Regions from separate parts of the Homo sapiens genome. Here region 1 is linked to region 2. Evidence: fine-mapped expression QTL. Tissue or cell type: whole blood. Region 2 holds a variant in brackets; the other region holds the start of a gene. All regions are shown on one strand. Distances are from middle to middle.

The links. PIP is the estimated chance that this variant, and not a neighbour inherited with it, causes the effect.
Region 1: STX8 starts here. The variant in region 2 is fine-mapped to the expression of STX8 in whole blood (TOPMed, PIP above 0.99).

What each region holds. Positions count from the first base shown.
Region 1 is chr17:9,571,069-9,580,164 of GRCh38, reverse strand. It overlaps STX8 (syntaxin 8), which reads left to right and starts at 4,345. Exons shown (of 8, transcript NM_004853.3): 1 at 4,345-4,373. The coding sequence starts at 4,357. It overlaps CFAP52 (cilia and flagella associated protein 52), which reads right to left and starts at 3,523. Exons shown (of 14, transcript NM_145054.5): 1 at 3,400-3,523. The coding sequence starts at 3,469. RefSeq lists enhancers at 3,261-3,390, 4,183-4,362.
Region 2 is chr17:9,540,862-9,551,281 of GRCh38, reverse strand. STX8 (syntaxin 8) reads left to right here. Exons shown (of 8, transcript NM_004853.3): 4 at 6,000-6,110. Among named protein-coding and RNA genes, the nearest start is that of STX8, 30 kb to the left of the region's middle. The variant G/A (reference allele first, on the strand shown) is at 5,376.

The DNA of each region.
Region 1 (9,096 bases), 30 kb before region 2:
GGCAGTGGGCCAGATTTGGCCCATGGGCTATAGTTTGTAGACTCCTGATCTATTTTGTTGTTGTTGCTGTTTTTAGTTTACAAGAACTCTTTGTATACCATAATAGGAAAATCATGGGCTACCTACTCCAGTCAATGGATGAATGTGACCAAACCCTTAATAACTATAACTTTATTAAATGTTTTTAACACAAGTATATTTGGTTTGCTTAAATAATTAATTCCTGCCAAAATGCAATACCTACAAGTGTCAAGTACAGTTACATATTGATACCATAAAGTTAAAATTCAAGTTTAAGGCCAGTCGCAGTGGCTCACGCCTGTAATCCCAGCACTTTGGGAGGCCGAGGCGGGTGGATCACCTGAGGTCAGGAGTTCAAGACCAGCCTGGCCAACGTGGCGAAACACCGTGTCTATTAAAAATACAAAAATTAGCCAGGCGTGGTGGTGGATACCTGTAATCCCAGCTACTTGGGAGGCTGAGGCAGGAGAATCACTTGAACCCATGAGGCAGAGGTTGCAGTGAGCTGAGATCGCACCACTGCACTCCAGCCTGGGAGACAGGGTGAGACTCCATCTCAAAAACAAAATTCAAGTTGAATAATGTAACACTATAGTGAGTTTCAGTGTTGCAGTGAAAAAAGGGGCCTTGCTTTTGTTTCTAATTTGTTTCCATCTGAAATCTAAACTCAATCACTTGGCATTTAAGGCCTCTGAAATCTAATTCCAGCTTCTCTTTCCTGTGTTATCCTGCCAGTCCCTGATACTGAAGCCACCCCAAGCTATTTGCCGTTCTGCAACCAGGCCCTGCACTCTCCACTTTTCCTCCTCTGCCCCCCGCTATTGCTGTAACCCGAAATATTCTGCCTTCAATCTTTACCCGCTGACTCCTAGTCAAAATCTTCTCTCCCGAGCCTTATGAAAGTTCTGTCTTTTCTCTCTCTCCCTCTTTTTTTTAGAGCTAGTATAGTTTTTTAAAATAAACATTTTTCAGTGAAGACAAAATACAGAAAACTCAATCACTTTTGTAAACTAAAAATAAAATCATAAGCTCCCCAATCCCCACGCTGCCCCACCCCAGCCACTGACTGAACAGATCCCCTTTTGGACAAAGGGACCCCCAAAACACCTTAAAGCAGAGTTCCCAGCCTTGACGGAATGGGAGGTCAGACATGCCTCATTATACCCCCTCTCTTTTGTGGTTTAGACACAACTGATCAGCATTAATGTTAAAATAGAGATCATAAGATTGACAGACTGTGTGGCAATAAGATATCAAATTATAAACAGGACCTAAGGCCATGCACCCCTCCACCCTGTGGCTGGGTGTGGTGGCTCAAGCCTGTAATCCCAGCACTTTGGGAGGCCAAGGCGGGTGGATCACCTGAGGTCAGGAATTGGAGACTAGTCTGGCCAACTTGGTGAAACCCCGTCTCTACTAAGAATACAAAAATTAGCCAGGCGTGGTGGTGGGTGCTTATAATCCCAGCTACTCTGGAGGCTGAGGCAGGAGAATAGCTTGAATCCAGGAGGTGGAGGTTGCAGTGAGCCGAGATTGTGCCATTACACAACAGAGCGAGACTCCACCGTCTCAAAATAAATAAATAAAATAAACTATACACTGCCACAAGGTTTTTCTTTTTCTCTGGCAGCTAAACAAGCACTTATCTTGAGATAAGCAATATGAAAACAACTGCAACCTGTCCAGTTCATAGGCACTTACTAACTGAAGCCCTGTTCAACCCGCCATAAGAACAATTTTGATTGGACAACAGAGTGATTTCAGTAATGTTCTCCTGGCAAGAAGACCACTCACCACGGACTACCTCTGGCCAGTTTACTGAGGCTTCCCACTTAACGTGCCGTCATGTCCTGAAAAGGCCTTTTGACATATAGGACCTAATTGTAATACATTTAAATGTTAGGTCTCCATCCCAAGGTGAATATGAGTGATATATTACATCAATGTTTGTTCAATACACATGTGTTGGGACCACCTTCATGAGTATTCATAGCTCCTCCTATAACCTGTTGAATATGTATGTTTGTTTGTTTATTTATTTATTTATTTTTTGAGACGGAGTCTCGCTCTGTCCCCCAGGCTGGAGTGCAGTGGCGTGACCTTGGCTCACTGCAACCTCTGCCTCCCAAGTTCAAGTGATTCTCCTCCCTCAGCCTCTCAAGTAGCTGGGATTACAGGCACCTACCACCACGCCCGGATAATTTTTGTATTTTTAGTATAGATGGGATTTCACCATGTTGGACAGGATGGTCTCGAACTCCTGACCTCAGGTGATCTACCTGCCTTGGCCTCCCAAAGCGCTGGGATTACAGGCATGAGCCACTGCCCCCGGCCTCAGTTGCAGAGTTCTATGTGTGTGGTTCTACATTGGCTCAACAAGTGACATTATGCAACCCACTGTAGGCTGCTCAATTGTTTCTCAATGATCTTGTAACCAACTCTCAAGATATCTGATATCCGAAATGTATAAAGCACTCACTTTCTATTGGAGACTGTTAAAGTTAAACCAAGAGTCAAGAGCTAAGTCCTAGAGTATGCTTAAAACTTTAGACAGTGATTGTTCTGCATCCACATTCTTAAAGCTTTCAGGCATCACAACACACATTTTTGAAAAGTTTTGCTTCTCCTAAAATCTAATTCATTGTTTTCTCATCCCTCAAAAAACCAAAACCCCTCAAAACGAACAATAAAACCCCACAGCTTTTTCTTCCCAGAATCTTCAAAACAATAGGCAGTCACAAATAAGATTTCAGCGGAGCGGCCCAGTCCCTTTTTCTCTCCGCTTTAGCTCCCCCTGGCGTCCCCTTCCCCTTCTGTCCTGGTCTGAAATCCTCATCATTTAGAAACCTTCCTTAGGATTAGAGGACCAACAACATCCCCTCAGGGGGTTGCTCAAACACACGTTCCCTCCCAGCCCTTTCTCACTGGTACGCCAGTTGGGATTTTAGCAGATTTCCTAGCTGGTCCCAGGGGCCGACACAGACAGCATCCTTCTGTGTGGTTACGAAGGAGCCTAGGGCTTTGCGAGCGGCGTGGGGTTCAGAGCCAGGAAGGGCTGACCTAGTGGGAGAAGGGTTACAACCACCCGTACTCATCCGGCCCGCCTGGGGAAGAGGCATTTGGTCCCTTTTAGGTGCTGGCGCTTGTCCGAGCTGGTAAAAACCATCTCACTCCCTGAGGCTTGGATCGAGGAAGTGACTCTCCAAGGCCTTGGGGCAGGTCAGGCTGTGCGGGTCCTCCTGTGCGTGTCCCTGGCCAGGGCTCCTGCCGTTGTCCCACACTGCCTTTCAGGTGTCCCCGGTGTCTCACTATTCCTGTTTGCACTACACGTCCTCCGAATTCCTAAACCAGCCAGCCCAAAGATGCTGGAGGCCTCACCATTGAAGCCGATCACGGCGTCAAGTTCCAGCTCCGCCACTTGGGCCTCCGGCGAAATTTTGTTATCCATCCTTGGGAGGTTCTGATTACTTTGCTCTCCTCCCTAGTGGCTGCAGCGTCTTCTGGTCGTTATGGTAACGGACGAGCGCATGCGCTCCAGCTCCACGCCCGCGCAGAAACCCAGCCTGCCGAGTTCGAGTTCATTAGCATTCTTGGAAATGAAGGGGTATGGGGACTGGAAGAGAGATGGGGTGGGACTCCTCTTCTTTTTTTTTGTGCTATTTCTCTGGAAATTTAGGGGATGGCACTAACTGCGCAGAACTAATTCCTCCATCCCCTTGTGTAGAGTCTGTGACTTCTTAGTAACTCTAAAATCAAGCACCGAATGAATGGCATTTAAAAAATATGTAATCAGGCGTACAGGACTGATAGGAAGGCTGCTATAAAAAATATATATAATTGATACTTCTTTGGGCCCCTGTTTGGAGCAGTGTGAAAAAAATTTTAAAGATTTTTTAAAAAGCGTTGAGGTATAATTTACATATCATAAAGTTAACTTAAAGTAGGTTGTAGTGAGTTTACGCAGCGTGCAAGTCTCACCGCAATCTAGTGTTTTGTTTATTGTTTTGTTTTTGAAGCAGGATAAATTTTTAAGTAACTGCTACAGAGAGGTCTTGCAGCGCTCCCACCTTCCTGGGAAAATGCTTTGTTTCTATTTAACAATTTTAACTGAGCTTAGCAGTTCGCGTCTCTTGGTGGGAGTAGATTGCTCCAGTGTACTGTCCGCAGGGGAGCGCTTTGCTTTCTCTGATTATAGTTCTGAGGCCCTAGCTACTCACTTTGCAAACTCCAGGCTCCGGTCGCGCACGGGACGAACTGCGGGGAGTGAGCCGCGCGGGCCGCCGTAGTCAGCTGCTAAGAGCAGGAAGAGTCCGAGCGGCGGGCGGAGTCTGCAGGATGGCACCGGACCCCTGGTGAGTCCCGGGTGAGGGCGGCGGTGCGTGGAGGGACCTTCGGGGAGGCCGGGCTTCCGGAGAGCAGGCAATCACTTCGCATTGCCGCTGGTGGCCTTTCGGGATGAGGGGAGGGGCAGCGAGACCTTTCCTTTACTGAGGGGGCTCAGCCACATCCCGCCACACTTGGTCCTTGCAAGGGTGGCCCGGGAAGGAGACCAGGTGGTCCGCTGGAGAGCTGAGGACTTACGCCAAATCTCTGAATATTCCTTTAGCTTTTCTGGGCTGCATCTCGTTGCGGGGATTTCCCGCCCATCCTGGTTTTGGAGCTAGCTGGCTGGTGCAGGCTTCCCTGGACTCCTATAAAAGTGAAGTCGAAATAACGTTTTTGTAGCATGTCAGTCCATCCCGGTAAACCCCCTTATTTCACAGGTGGAGAAACCGAGGTTCAGAATCCATGGCCACCAGCCAGTTAGTAACCAGCTGGGGCTAAGACCTAGATCTTGGGGGCCCTTCCAGATACAGGAACCTGGGAGGGAAATTGTGCACTTGTTTATAAGGCATTTTGCACTTTCTTGAGTTAATATCATGAAGTCTTTTCCTTTAGCAGTAGCTTCTGCAGTAAAACAATAGCTGATAAGGGTGATTTATTTAGCAGTTAATCCCAAGGACTGCATGATGAAAGATGCAACTTTTGATCCCAAGGAACATATTGTTTGATCCCAAGGAACGTATTGTTATTGAACATAGACTTGACCTTTCTGCTTAATAATTAAAAACATATTACAGCTCTATAACGTTCTTGTTGGAATATGTGTCTTATGTTGTTATTTCTAATATAGTTTATAATTGTTTAAGTTGCCCACATCCTGGATATTAGAAGAATGGATTCCAAGAACAAAGTTGAGTTACCTGGAATCTAGGTTATTTGGGCCAATTATTTAATTTAGCATTTACTTTTTTAAACCTAATTTTAGGCCGGACGCGGTGGTGGCTCACGCCTGTAATCCCAGTACTTTGGGAGGCCGAGGCAGGCAGATCACCTGAGGTCGGGAGGTCGAGACCAGCCTGACCAACATGGAGAAACCCCGTCTCTACTAAAAATACAAAATTAGCCGGGCATGGTAGTACATGCCTGTAATCCCAGCTACTCGGGAGACTGAGGCAGGAGAATCGCTTGAACCCGGGAGGTGTAGGTTGTGGTGAGCTGAGATCGTGCCATTGCACTCCAGCCTGGGCAACACGAGCGAAACTCCGTCTCAAAAAAAAATAAAAAACCCCAAAATCCCTAATTTTAACAGTTATATACACCCCTTGATAGAGAATATTCAATTTAGAGAATATTGAAAATTTGCAAAAAGGAAAATAAATAGCATCTTTAACTCTATAATTTGGAAATAGCCATTAATGATTTTTTTACAATGAATTTGTTATTTTAATCTATATTTTTATATATATATATAATATAAACAGCATTTCTCTATGTCATTGGACATTCTTTGAAAGCATAACTTTCTTTTCTTCTTTTTTTTTTTTTTGAGACGGAGTCTTGCTCTGTCTGTCACCCAGGCTGGAGTGCAATGGCGCGATCATGGCTCACTGCAACCTCCACCTCCTGGGCTTAAGCAACTCTCCTGCCTCAGCCTCTGGAGTAGCTGGGACTACAGGCGCACGCAGCCACGCCCAGCTAATTTTTTGTATTTTAGTAGAGACAGGGTTTTACCGTGTTGCCTAGGCTGATCTTGAACTCCTGAGCTCAGGCAATCTGCCCGCCTTGGCCTCCCAAAGTGCTGGGATTACAGGTGTGAGCCACCGCACCTGGCCTCATAATTGTCTTATGTTGCAAAATAATGCATCACATGAATGACCATAATTTATTTTTCTCCTATTAGTTTTTTGTTTTTCTGATGTTTTGTTTTGTTTTATCATTGCAAAGGGAGTCCCTTTGTTCTATCTCTTATTTCCTTGGGCTCCCTGTCTAGAAGTAGGAATTAGAACTGTTGAAAGTGAAGCATTTATACTTTTTTTGTTATTCTCAATCAGTTTGACTAAGTGGCTTTCTCATTAGACTGTTGAAAGTGAAATAGAACTGTTGGGCTCAAGGGTATAAACATTTTTAAGGCCCTTGATACTGTGAACCCCAAAGTATCTGAGACAGGTCTCAGTCAATTTAGAAAGTTTATTTTGCCAAGGTTAAGAATGCACCCATGACACAGCCTCAGGAGGTTCTGAAGACCTGTGCCCAAGGTGGTTGGGGAACAGCTTGCTTTTATACAATTTAGGGAGAATAATACATGAATTAATACATGTAAGATTTATGATGGCTCAATCCAGAAGGGAGGGACACCTCGAAGGGCGTGGGGGGCTTCCAGGTCATAAGTAGATTGAAAAATTTTCTGATTGGCAATTGGTTGAGTTATTATCAATAGAAACGAATGTCTGGGTTATGATAAGGGGTAGTGGAGACCAAGATTTTATTATGCAAATGAAGCCTCTGGGTAGCAGGCTTTAGAGAGAATACATTGTAAGTGTTTCTTATCAGACTTAAGGTCTGTATTGACGTTAATGCTGGTTGGCTTTTCCTGAATTCCAAAAAGGAGGAGAGGATATATAATGAGGCATGTCTGATCCCCTCTTCCCATCATGGCCTGAACCAGTGTTTCAGGTTAACTTTGGAATGCCCTTGCCTTAGAGTAGGGGTCCGTTCAGATGGTTGCGGGGGTGGGGGGGGGTGTTGGGGGTGGGCTTAGAATTTTATTTTGGTTTACAATACATATTCCTAAGTTGCCCTCCACCTTCTGGAACCTAAATCCCTCAGTTTACAAATCAAGTAGGAAATAAAGGTCAAAGATAAGGGACAGGCCCCCAGTTATCTATTTAGATTGGTGGAAGCTATCACTGGACCCCAAGCTTCTTCCGCAGTTAATGTTGATAAAGCATTGAGACTTTTTCTGTTATACTTCATTAGTTTGATGAAGTGGCTTTCTCATTGGACTATTGAGAGTGAAACAGTGAGACACTCAGCTGTGCTCCCAAAGCACAAAATGGGTCGCTGATTAGGGGGGTAGAAAGGAGTATGGGAAGGGACTTGAAAAACCTATAAAAGGCCAGGTGTGGTGGCTCACACCTGTAATCCTAGCACTTTGGGAGGCTGAGGCAGGCGGATCATAAGGTCAGGAGTTCGAGACCAGCCTGACCAACATGGTGAAACCCCGTCTCTACTAAAAACGCAAAAATTAGCTGGGCATGTTGGTGTGTACCTGTAATCCCAGCTACTCAGGAGGCTGAGGCAGGAGAATCACTTGAACCCAGGAGGTGGAGGTTGCAGTGAGCCGAGATTGCGCCACTGCACTTCAGCCTGGGCGACAGAGCGAGACTCCATGTCAAAACAAAACAAAACAAACAAACAAAAACAACCTATAAAAACAGATTCAACTACAGCTTTACCTTTGTGTTGCTAAAATCATAGGTCATTGGCACCTCCCTCAGTGTCTAGCAATGGAATATAGCAGTTACTATTTTAATGGCCTATCAAAGCAAGTGGTAAGCTCGCTGTTTAACAGAAGGAGCCCATGATCACTGTCTCTGAACTGGCTCTTTGCTAATGTTAATTAGCTTTACCTCCAGGGTAACTAATTTGTTGATGATGTACCATTTCCAGAAAAATTACAGTTAAACCTTAATAGTTTTATATCCTGATTGGACTTTTTATGTTGGTAGCATGGTCTTCTTTGTGTTGAATTGCTTTTTAAAAACTTTATTTTGGAAGGTAAAAGATACACAAACTAGAATAGTATAATGGGCCCCTTTCATACTCACCACCCAATTTCTGTGATTATCAATATTCTGCCATTCTTGTTTCATCTCTACCCTCCACACCTTTTTTTTTTTTAATTTTGAGATGGAGTCTTGCTCCGTCGCCCAGGCTGGAGTGCAGTGGCATGATCTTGGCTCACTGCAACCTCTGCCTCCTGAGTTCAAGTGATTCTCCTATCTCAGCCTCCCGAGTAGCTGGGATTACAAGCACCCGCCACCATGCCCGGCTAATTTTTGTATTTTTAGTAGAGATGGGGTTTTGCCATGTTGGCCAGGCTGGTCTTGAACTCCTGACCTCAGGTGATCACCCGTCTTGGCCTCCCAAAGTGCTGGGATTACAGGTGTGAGCCACTACGCCTATGCCCGGCCCAGATTACTTTTTTTTTTTTTTTTTTTTGAGACAAAGTCTTGCTCTTGTCCCCCAGGCTGGAGTGCGATGGCACAATCTCGGCAAACTGCAACCTCTGCCTCCCGGGTTCCAGCGATTCTCCTGCCTCAGCCACCCCCCGACCCAATTACTTTTTCTAAACTAGTACTTCAGGCACCTGTGTGCTTGATAGTGTAATGAGGTTGTCTATTGCCCCAGGCCAAGGGTTCCCGCCCGGACTTTACCGCAGATTGGAATCACTTGGAGAGCTTTTAAAGCTCCCCACGCACGCCCAGGACAAACCCCATACCAGTTGAGTCAGAATGCTGAGGTTGGGACCAGGCATTGTTATTTTTTTAAAGATTCCCCAGTGATTCCAACTTGTTTCAGAACTATTGCTCTTTAGGGCTAAAATAACAACACAAGGACTGGAGTCAGGACACCTGGGAGTTTGTGCTAGCTGTGTGCATTTCTCATAACCTCTTTAGGGCCACTCTCTGTGTGTAAAAGTGTTCTCTATGGCTCTGAAATTCTCCTTTAAGTCTAACCTTGTTAGACTGG
Region 2 (10,420 bases):
GACTTGGCCTGGTACATCATAAATATTTATTAGAGTTTGTTGACTTAAAAAAAGAAAGCCAGAAAAGTCTTTTGACCTCTAGAACCTTAAACTGTTCCCTTGCAGTTCTTCTTTTTTGGCATGGAGAATTAATTATCTGCAAACTTCTTCCTTCGCCAGAGCAGCTCTTTCACAAAATAAGGCTTACCTAAATTCTATTTTTTTTTGAGACGGAGTTTCACTCTTGTTGCCCAGTCTGGAGCACAATGGTGCGATCTCAGCTCACTGCAACCACCGCCTCACAGGTTCAAGCGATTCTCCTACCCCAGCCTCCCAAGTACCTGGGATTACAGGTGTGCACCACTACACCTGGCTAATTTTTGTGTTTTTGGTAGAGATGGGGTTTTGCCATGTTGGCCAGGCTGGTCTCAAACTCCTGACCTCAGGTGATTCACCCACCTCAACATCCCAAAGTGCTGGGATTACAGGTGTGAGCGACTGTGCCCAGCCTAAATTCTTAAGCCTTCTACCAAATATAAGAGAAAATCCAGGAGCTGGAGTGGGATTGGGTGACCTGTGGATCCAGTTGCATATTTACCCCGCTCCATCTGTGGTTCAAATGCTCACCAGGCTACAGCAGAGAAGCTGGACTTATGCATGCTGGTAGTAGGTATCAGTAATATGAAATCAGGATCCAGTTTTATTTTTATTTTTATTTATTTATTTTTTGAGATGGAGTCTCGCTGTGTCACCCAGGCTCGAGTGCAGTGGCACGATCTTGGCTCACTGCAAGCTCCACCTCCCGGGTTCACGCCATTCTCCTGCCTTAGCCTCCCGAGTAGCTGGGACTACAGGGGATCCAGTTTTATTTACAACCTTACATATCCATGAATTGGCTATAATTACATGTACAATCAGCATAGCCAAGGACAAAGTACTATGATAGTTAGCTCTTCTCTTCCTTTTCTTTATCTGTCTGTTCTCTTATCTTCTTCCTTGGCTATTCACCAGGTTGGTGGAAGAGGAGGTTCCCCAGCACTGGCCACTGACTGTGTGCTGTACTACTTTTTTTTTTTTTTGAGATGGAGTCTCACTTTGTTGCCCAGGCTGGAGTGCAGTGGCACGATCTTGGCTCACTGCAACCTCTGCCTCCCGGGTTCCAGCGATTCTCCTGCCTCAGCCTCCTGAGTAGCTGGGACTACAGGCGTGTGCCACCACACCCAGCTAATTTTTGTATTTTTTTAGTACAGATGGGGTTTCACCGTGTTGTCCAGGCTGGTCTCGAACTCCTGACCTCATGATCCGCCTGCCTCAGCCTTCCAAAGTGCTGGGATTACAGGCTTGAGCCACCGCGCTTGGCCTGTGTGTCCTACTTTCTACTTGTCCTTAGCATCACTCAGGCACACTGTTTCCCCACTACCCTACTTTACCCAACTGCTACGCACCTGTCCACATACATGCTGTATAGATTGTTTCCTGGATGATCCTTTGACCTCTTACTAATAACAACCCTTACATAGCAAGGGTGCTATGCAGATGGTTCATTAATCAATTTATTCTCATTCCATCTCCCTCCTCCCCATCTCCTTATGCTCTGTTCTCTCCGTAGATTAAAATATAAAACAAAGAGGCAGCATGTTCCTAATTGGATTGTTTTCCAGATTTACAGAGTCTCTGGGAATATTCTGAATTCGTACTCCCAGTATTGTTTTTATCAGGATTCTAAGAAGTGGCAAAGTTAAGTCAGCATCTCAAGGTGGAGAAGTCTGCAGAATGTTTGGTGGAAAAGCCATGAGCTAGGGTTGAAAGAGCTGTCACCTAGCATGGCTGTTAACCCAGGCAAGTGACTTAGCCATGCTCACCCTTAATTTCTGGTCAGCAAAACAAGAGAACTGGGATCTTTAAGGCCTCTTCTAGCATCAACTGTGTGGGTTTCTGTTCTTTGGTTACTCATCTACAAAACATAGTCATCAAGTTTTACTGTTTCTGAAACTGATGTTCTTTGTTAGCTCCTTCTTGACGTAAGTTTAAATCTGTAACTAGTATCTGCTGATTTTAAAATGTACCTTTATTGTTTTTATTACAAAAAATATTATACTTTCTACTGATACATTTCTCATTAGTTATTACCAATGACTCCTCTTTCTCTTCCTTATTCTATCCTGTCTCATCTCATTCTTTATAGTTAAGTGTTAATGGTTGGTAGCTAGTATCTCAGACTTTTCTAGGCTTGAAATATATGCATATGTAAACATAAAATTCCTTTGACTATAAAGGGATTATATTATACATATGGTTCTGAAGCTTGTGTTTTTATTAATTAGCAGATGATAGAGACAAACATTAGGAAACAATATTCAGTGAAACATCAGTCTCTCTTATACCCTTAATCCTCAGTTGTCCTTCCTTAGAGGCAATGTTTATATATCAGAAATTTTCTGTGTGTATATACACACATATATAGTTAGGATTTTTTTTTAACAAAGTGGGAGCACACTACTCACTGTTTAGCTCCTTGCTGCTGCTGTTTTTTTCCCCTCCTTTGGTTTAATGTTATATTTTGTAGATTATTCCATGTCAAATAATTCATGTAAACACTTAGTAAGTGCTCAAAAATGTTAATTATCATTATCAGCCCCCTAAACAGCTTTCCTATTCTTTTTTTAAGGCTGCAAAACATTCCATTGTTTACATACACTAGTTACTTATTGATATTTCCAATGTGGCTATTATAAATAATGGTTCAGTGGACATCCTTGCTTCTAAGTCCTTGTAGGACTGTATCTGAGGAAGAAATGTCTGTTGAAAGACTGTACCTTTTATATTTTGTTAGGTATTTAGAAGGCAGTCTAGCAGTTGGTTGAACCTGTTTGCATTCCTATCAAGAATGTATGAGGTGGCCGGGTATGGTGGCTCATGCCTGTAATCCCAGCACTTTGGGAGGCCGAGGTGGGTGGATCACTTGAGGTCAGGAGTTCGAGACCAGCCTGGACAACATGGTGAAACCCCATCTCTACTGAAAACACAAAAATTAGCTGGGCATGGTGGCATGTGCATGTAATCCCAGCTACTTGGGAGGCTGAGGCAGGAGAATTGCTTAAACTCTGGAGCTGGAGGTTGCAGTGAGCCAAGATCATGCCACTGCACTCCAGGCTGGGCGACAGAGGGAGACACTGTCTCAAAAAATAATAATAATAATAAAGAAAGAATGTATAAGGTCAGGTGAAGTGGCTCATGCTTGTAATCCCAGCACTTTGGGAGGCAGGAGGGTCACTTTAGATTAGGAGTTTGAGACCAGCCTGGCCAACATGGTGAAATCCTGTCTCTCAAAAAAACCCACAAAAATTAGCTGGGTGTGGTGGTGGACACCTGTAATCCCTGCTACTTGGGGAGCTGAGAGGAGAATTGCTTGAACCCAGGTAGTGGAGGTTGCAGTGAGCCAAGGTTGCAACACTGCATTTCAGCCTGGGATGATAGAGCAAGACTCCATCTTAACAAAACAAAACAAAAAAAAAAAAAAGAAAAGAAAAGAAAAGGAAAGAATGTATGAGAGTGTCTGGTTCCTTGTCCCTTTCCAAAACTGTCTTCTCAGTTTCCTAATCTGATAGGTGGAAGTGGTATCTTGTTTTAGTGTGTATTTCTTTTCTTTTCTTTTCTTTTTTCTTTTTTTTTTTTGAGACGGAGTCTTGCTCTGTCACCCAGGCTGGAGTGCAGTGGCACAGTCTCGGCTCACTGCAACCTCCGCCTCCCGGGTTCAAGTGATTCTCCTGCCTCAGCCTCCTGCGTAGCTGCGATTGTGCGCCACCATGCCCAGCTAATTTTTGTGTTTTTAGTAGAGATGGGGTTTCACCATATTGGTCAGGCTGGTCTCGAACTCCTGACCTCGTGATCCACCTGCCTTGACCTGCTGGGATTACAGGCGTAAGCCACCACACCTGGCCAGATATATTTTAAAAGTGTTTGTTAGCTTTCTCCACTCATTCATTTTATGGCAGAAGTTGTTTCCAAACATATCCTTTACTGTGTTTCTTTTTTCTTTTTTTTTTTTTTTTTTTTGAGACAGAGTCTCGCTCTTTCACCAGGCTGGAGCGCAGTGGCGCGATCTCGGCTCACTGCAACCTCCGCCTCCCGGGTTCAAGCGATTTTCCTGCCTCAGCCTCCCGAGTAGCTGGGACTACAGGCGCACGCCACCACGCCTGGCTAGTTTTTATATTTTTAGTAGAGACGGGGTTTTACCGTGTTTGCCAGGATGGTTTCCATCTCTTGACCTTGTGATCCGCCCACTTCAGCCTCCCAGAGTGCTGGGATTACAGGCGTTGAGCCACCGCGTCCAGCCCTTCTGTGTTTCTTAACATACCACACACATAGACACAGTTCAGCCTAAAAACAAACAAACAAAAACTTGTGTCTGGGCGCACTGGCTCACACCTGTAATCCCAGCACTTTGGGAGGCTGAGGTGAACGGATCATGAGGTCAAGAGATCGAGACCATCCTGGCCAACATGGTGAAAACCTGTCTCTACCAAAAATACAAAAAATTAGCTGCGCGTGGTGGCACGTGCCTGTAGTCCCAGCTACTCAGGAGGCTGAGGCAGGAGAATCGCTTGAACCCGGGTGGCGGAGGTTGCAGTGAGCCGAGATCGCGCCACTGCACTCCAGCCTGTAGACAGAACAAGGCTCCGTCTCCAAAAAAAAAAAAAAAAAAAAAAAACCACTTTTGTAGTTTGCATCAAGAAAGCTAGTATATAAAACTTTGTACTTAGTCCAAGGGAAGTGGCGCCGGTTGTTGACAGACGCCACTTCCCTTTTTGCTTCATGCGCACGCGCCGCATTCTCGTCCACCTATTGGTGAATTGTAGGTTTCTTTCCAAAGACTACATTTCCCAGAAGGATGGTTGTTTGGTTTTTTTTTTTTAACCATCACTTATGAATTGTTGTGGAAAAGATGTTAGAGACTATTTAGTGTTACATATAAAGAAAGAGAGATCCCAAAAGGTGAAATAACTGGTTCAAGAGCATAGATAGTGGAATAGGGCTACAACTCTGCCTCTGGGGCTCCTAGTCTAGCGTGTTTGCTAGATTCACACATTAAAATGATTCTCTTTGTAATTTTCTTTACAAATCATGCAATGTATTTAAATAGTGAACTGATGGTAACAATTTATAGAGCAAATCTGTTGCATAAAGTAGCACTTTATAAATATCCTAGGTGTGTTAATAGATATTAACATGGAAGAAAGAGAGCAATATAGAGAACTTCTCTCCCCCAGCGCCCCCACTTTTTTAAACAGAGCATCTTAGGGTATTAATATGTAGGAAAATGCCCTGGAACACTGACACACACATATAACTCAAAACCTAAGGAATCACTGAGCCAGGTTGCACCATTGGCAGGA[G/A]AAGTCATTTAAATTTGGTCACTGGGGCTGGGCGTGGTGACTCACGCCTTGTAATTCCAGCACTTTGGGAGGCCAAGGCAGGCAGATCACCTGAGGTCATGAGTTCGAGACCAGCCTGGCCAGCATGGCAAAAACCCGTCTCTAATAAAAATACAAAACTTAGCCGGTTGTGGTGGTGCACGTCTGTAAGCCCAGCTACTCGGGAGGCTGAGGCAGGAGAACTGCTTGAACCCGGGAGGCAGAGGTTGCAGTGGGCCGAGATCGCGCCATTGCACTCCAGCCTGGGCGACAGAGCGAGACTCTGTCTCAAAAATAAGTAAATAAGTTTGGTCACGGGGAGGAAAGTAATATTTACCTGGTATATTTCTCAATGAAAAACTTGTGTCATGATCCACGTCAGTGTTTATAAGTGCCTCTGCGATGGTCCTGCCAAGGTCCTTTACCTGACGGCCTGGTGAAGGTGAAGGTCAGAGCAGGAAAAACGCAAGAGTGGTGCGCATCCCTTCTGGGTAGTAGTGATTACAGTCTGTAAAAGCCACAACTGACTTGAAGAGCTAACTTAATAATGTAATAGTTAAAACGAGGTCATTTATTCACCATTGAACCTTAACAAGATATCTGCAGAACACAGCTTGAAGGGGACCGAAGACAGAACCTCTTGGATGATCTTGTAACTCGAGAGAGACTACTTCTGGCATCCTTTAAGAATGAGGGTGCCGAACCAGATCTAATCAGGTAGGATGTTTTTATTTACAGGGATTACTTGGTGGGCGAAGACTTCTTTGCAGATACTACAGCTGTTTCCTGAATGGCTTACTTTAGGAATTAATCAAAATCTATTCTATTCATTTATGGTGTTTGACTATAATTTTCTACTCAATTTAGTTTTCGTTAATTTTTGTTTGTTTGTTTGAGACAGAGTCTCGCTCTGTCACCCAGGCTGGAGTGCAGTGGCGTGATCTTGGCTCTCTGCAAGCTCCACCTCCCAGGTTTCCACCATTCTACTGCCTCAGCCTCCCAAGTAGTTGGGATTACAGGCGCCCACCGCCACCGTGCCCGACTAATTTTTTGTATTTTTAGTAGAGATGGGGTTTCACCGTATTAGTCAGGATGGTCTCGATCTCCTGACCTCGTGATCCGCCCGCCTTGGCCTCCCAAAGTGCTGGGATTACAGGTGTGAGCCACTGCGCCCGGCCAGTTTTCGTTAATTTTCTGGGTTTAGTAAACCAGGTATGTTCAGCTGAATCCCATCTTGGGTGGAACATACTAAGGGAGACTGTGGGTGAAGTCAGAACATTTCTTTGGCATTCTTTGGTTGAGTTTTCTGCTTTGTTAACTGCCTTCTAAACTCCTGAGGTCACTACTTCTCTGTGTGGGCAAAGCAGTTTTTTGTTTTTTTTTTTAATTGGCATATTGAGAACATGAGTCCTAATAAGACTGGTCCGGGGCTCACAGAGGCAAAGGAGTTGGATCCTCCTCCCCATTCTTCGCCAGTGAGTGATTCACACTTCAAAGAGCTGACAGCTGCTCTGAGCCCGGTTCTGCTGGAAGACCTGGAGGACGGGTCGGGCTTTCCAAGGCTGAGGTTGATGAACCGTAAATTGCTACCTCTTTAGAATTGGCCTCCCCCTGTTTCTAGAACTTCCTTAGCTTCATCGTGGGAACCATCACAGAAGGCAATGAGCTTGGGTGGAAACCCGCCTCTCCTCATCTTCCACGCTAGGGTTGATGCATTTATCGTGGAGAGGAGCTTGTTTCTAGTTGGTTTCCAGTTAGGAATAGTGTGGCTTCCCAAGGGCAGTGGTTTTGGACCCTAGCCGTGCATTGTCAGACTCCACCTCTGACAGGTGAACCAGAGTGGGATTGCGGTGGAGGGGCAGAGGGGCAGGGAGGTCTCAGGTGATTCTAATATACAACCCAGATTGCAAACAACTGCCTAGAACAAGCTGAAGAAAATGAAACTGATTTTCCTGTGGGTTCCAGTCTTCTCAGGAGCGGCGATCCAAGGTTCCATGAAGAAACTGTGAAATACAGGAAGGTAGATGAAATGTTAAGTTGCTTCTGTGAAGAAATGAACCTAAGAGTCAGTTAGGGAGGGGTGATACTCTGTTGGCAGTCTCCTGGGCAGGGTTTAAATGAAGATAGAAGCCTGTGCTGGGCCAATCTACTGTGGTTCCCAATATTTCCCTGGCATATTCAGTCCCAGGGTACAGGGGTGAAGTATGTGGATGAAGGTGGTGGTCCAGGTTGGTCAAAGAGAACAGGTGAGCAAAGGAATCAAAGGTGAAAAGAAAGTACTGTCGCCTGGGTGCAGTGGCTCACGCCTGTAAGCCTAGCACTTTGGGAGGCCAAGGTGGGTGGATTGCCTGAGCTCAGGAGTTTGAGACCAGCCTGGGCAACAAGGTGAAATGCCATCTCTACTAAAATACAACAACAACAACAAAAAAGTAGCCGTTGTGGTGGCGGGCACCTGTAGTCCCAGCTACTCAGGAGGCTGAGGCAGGAGAATTGCTTGAACCTGGGAGGTGGAGGTTGCAGTGAGCCGAGATCACGCCACTGCACTCCAGCCTGGGCGACAGAGCAAGACTCCGTCTCAAAAAAAAAAACCAAAAAACTGTCTTCTAGAAGGGGCTTTACACTGAAGGCAGAGTCTTTTTAGTCAAGAAATTAATAAGGACATAGGTAGGACGGGGAGCTTGTTTCATGGAGGAATAGTGGTCATGTAGACAGATGATGGTCAGAAAGAGGACAAAACATTCAGACTATTCTGCTTGGTAGTGATGAGGCAGTCGTGATGAATAGTCATGGTTCCCATTTGAGAAGAGCATGTTTTGCACCAGACTCTGCTCTTTGCTTCTCATTAATTGTGCCACTTAATGATGCTGAAGGGGCCAACCTAGGAATTTAGGCTGAGGACCTCTGAAGTCTTCCCACCAGGTCCTTGTTTGTTTTGTTAGTTTTTGGTCCCCGCTTGCCTGCCTTTGTCACCCCTCTTCTCTGATCATCTCTGTGTCCTTTACAGTGTGACTTGCTGATAAGCAGCATCAGCATCACCTGGCAGTGTGTTACAAACTCAGAATTTTCCAACCCGAACCCCAAACTACAGAATTAAAACTTGCATTCTAACAAGATCATCAGGTGATTTGAATGCACATTACAATTTAAGAAATAACTGCTTTGTATCATTTATTCCTTATTTATTTATTTATTTATTTATTTATTTATTTTTTGAGATGGAGTCTTGCTCTGTCGCCCAGGCTGGAGTGCAGTGGCGCAATCTTGGCTCACTGCAAGCTCCGCCTCCCAGGTTCACACCACTCTCCTGCCTCAGCCTCCCGAGTAGCTGGGACTACAGGCGCCCGCCACCATGCCCGGCTAATTTTTTGTATTTTTAGTAGAGACAGGGTTTCACCATGTTAGCTAGGATGGTCTCGATTTCCTGACCTCGTGATCTGCCTGCCTCGGCCTCCCAAAGTGCTGGGATTACAGGCGTGAGCCACAGCTCCCGGCCCTTGTTTTTTTGTTGTTGTTTTTGTTTGTTTTGTTTTTGAGACGGAGTTTTGCTGTGTCACCCAGGCTTGAGTGCAGTGGCACAATTTCAGCTCGCTGCAACCTCCGCCTCCCGAGTTCAAGTGATTCTCCTGCCTCAGCCTCCCGAGTAGCTGGGATCACAGGCACGCACTACCACGCCTGGCTAATTTTGTATGTTTGGTAGAGATGAGGTTTTACCATGTTGGCCAGGCTGGTCTTGAACTCCTGACCTCAGGTGATCTGCCTGCCTCAGCCTCCCAAAACGCTGGGATTACAGCCATGAGCCACTACACCTGGCCTGTGTCATTTATTCTTAATCGTGGCACTTTGCATCAGAATCACCCAAGAGAGAATGGAAAAAAAAAAAAAAATACAAATGTTTAGACCATGTACTTGCAGAGTCTGATTCATAGTCTTGGGTGAGGCCTGGGCAGCAGTAAGGCTGGGGAGACTACCGGGTGGTTTTAGTAGGTGGCAGGGTTAGAACGACTGCTCTATGTCACAGTGTACTAGTCATGAGACCTATAGCTTATGTCTGCTATTTGTTTTTTATATGGTAGGCACTGTGCTAAGCTCTTTATGTGCATTTGCTCAGGAGCTCTTTATAATGCCCCATTTTGCAGAAGAGAAACAGGCTCAGAGGGTTCAAGATTCTAAAGCTAATCAGTCATAGAACTTGGATTTTAGCTCTGAACTTGTAACCATTGCACCATAAAAAGAGCTGGATGAGGTGTTAGAAGGACCCAGTTCTGTAGCTTTCTAGTCTGTCAGTCATGTGGGCTTTGAAGTCATTGACCTTAGACTGGGGATACATGTGCTGCCCATTTTTCGTTGTTGTTAGGACCAGATGAAGTGATTGCTATGAGACAGGCTTTGTAAACTCTAAGACCTTTATAAATACAAGATGTTATTACTGGAGCATTGTGTCTCCATCCGGCTAGGAGGGAACTCAGGCTGCCTCATTGCTTCGGAGATCTTCTGTCCCTCGTGCCCTGCCCCCTGATTGCTCTAGAAGGACGTGGTCTGTCTGACCCCATCATACGCTGCACCTGGTCCTCTGCCCTCCATTCTCCTCTTCCACATCTCATTTGTTCCGTGTCTGCTTCCCTCCGTGCCCAGCTTGCTGCCTATTGTCTTATTAGTGAACAATCTCATGTTAATTCTAGCAGTGGAATCAACGGCTGCCAATGTCTTGTCTTCTGGAGGTATTTTCACCGAAACCTCCTTAAACCCTAGGATTGAAACCACAGTGAATTAGTTGATGGGAATGTTTAGGGAATTTGGCAGGTTAGTGTCAGGTGGTTTTTTTGGATGGAGGCCTTCTGAGGACCTCTTGGGTCCTGCCACTGGGACTGCCTTCTGCTCTTCATGCCCATAAGGCTGATCCATGTGGTGGACTAAAGCTGTTGCTTGTTGGTGTGTTGGTGAATGGCTGAGTGGCATGGGGACAGAGATCATACTGGGGAGACACTGTCAAGCAAAGGTAACTGAATCCCTGAGGGTTGAAATAAAGT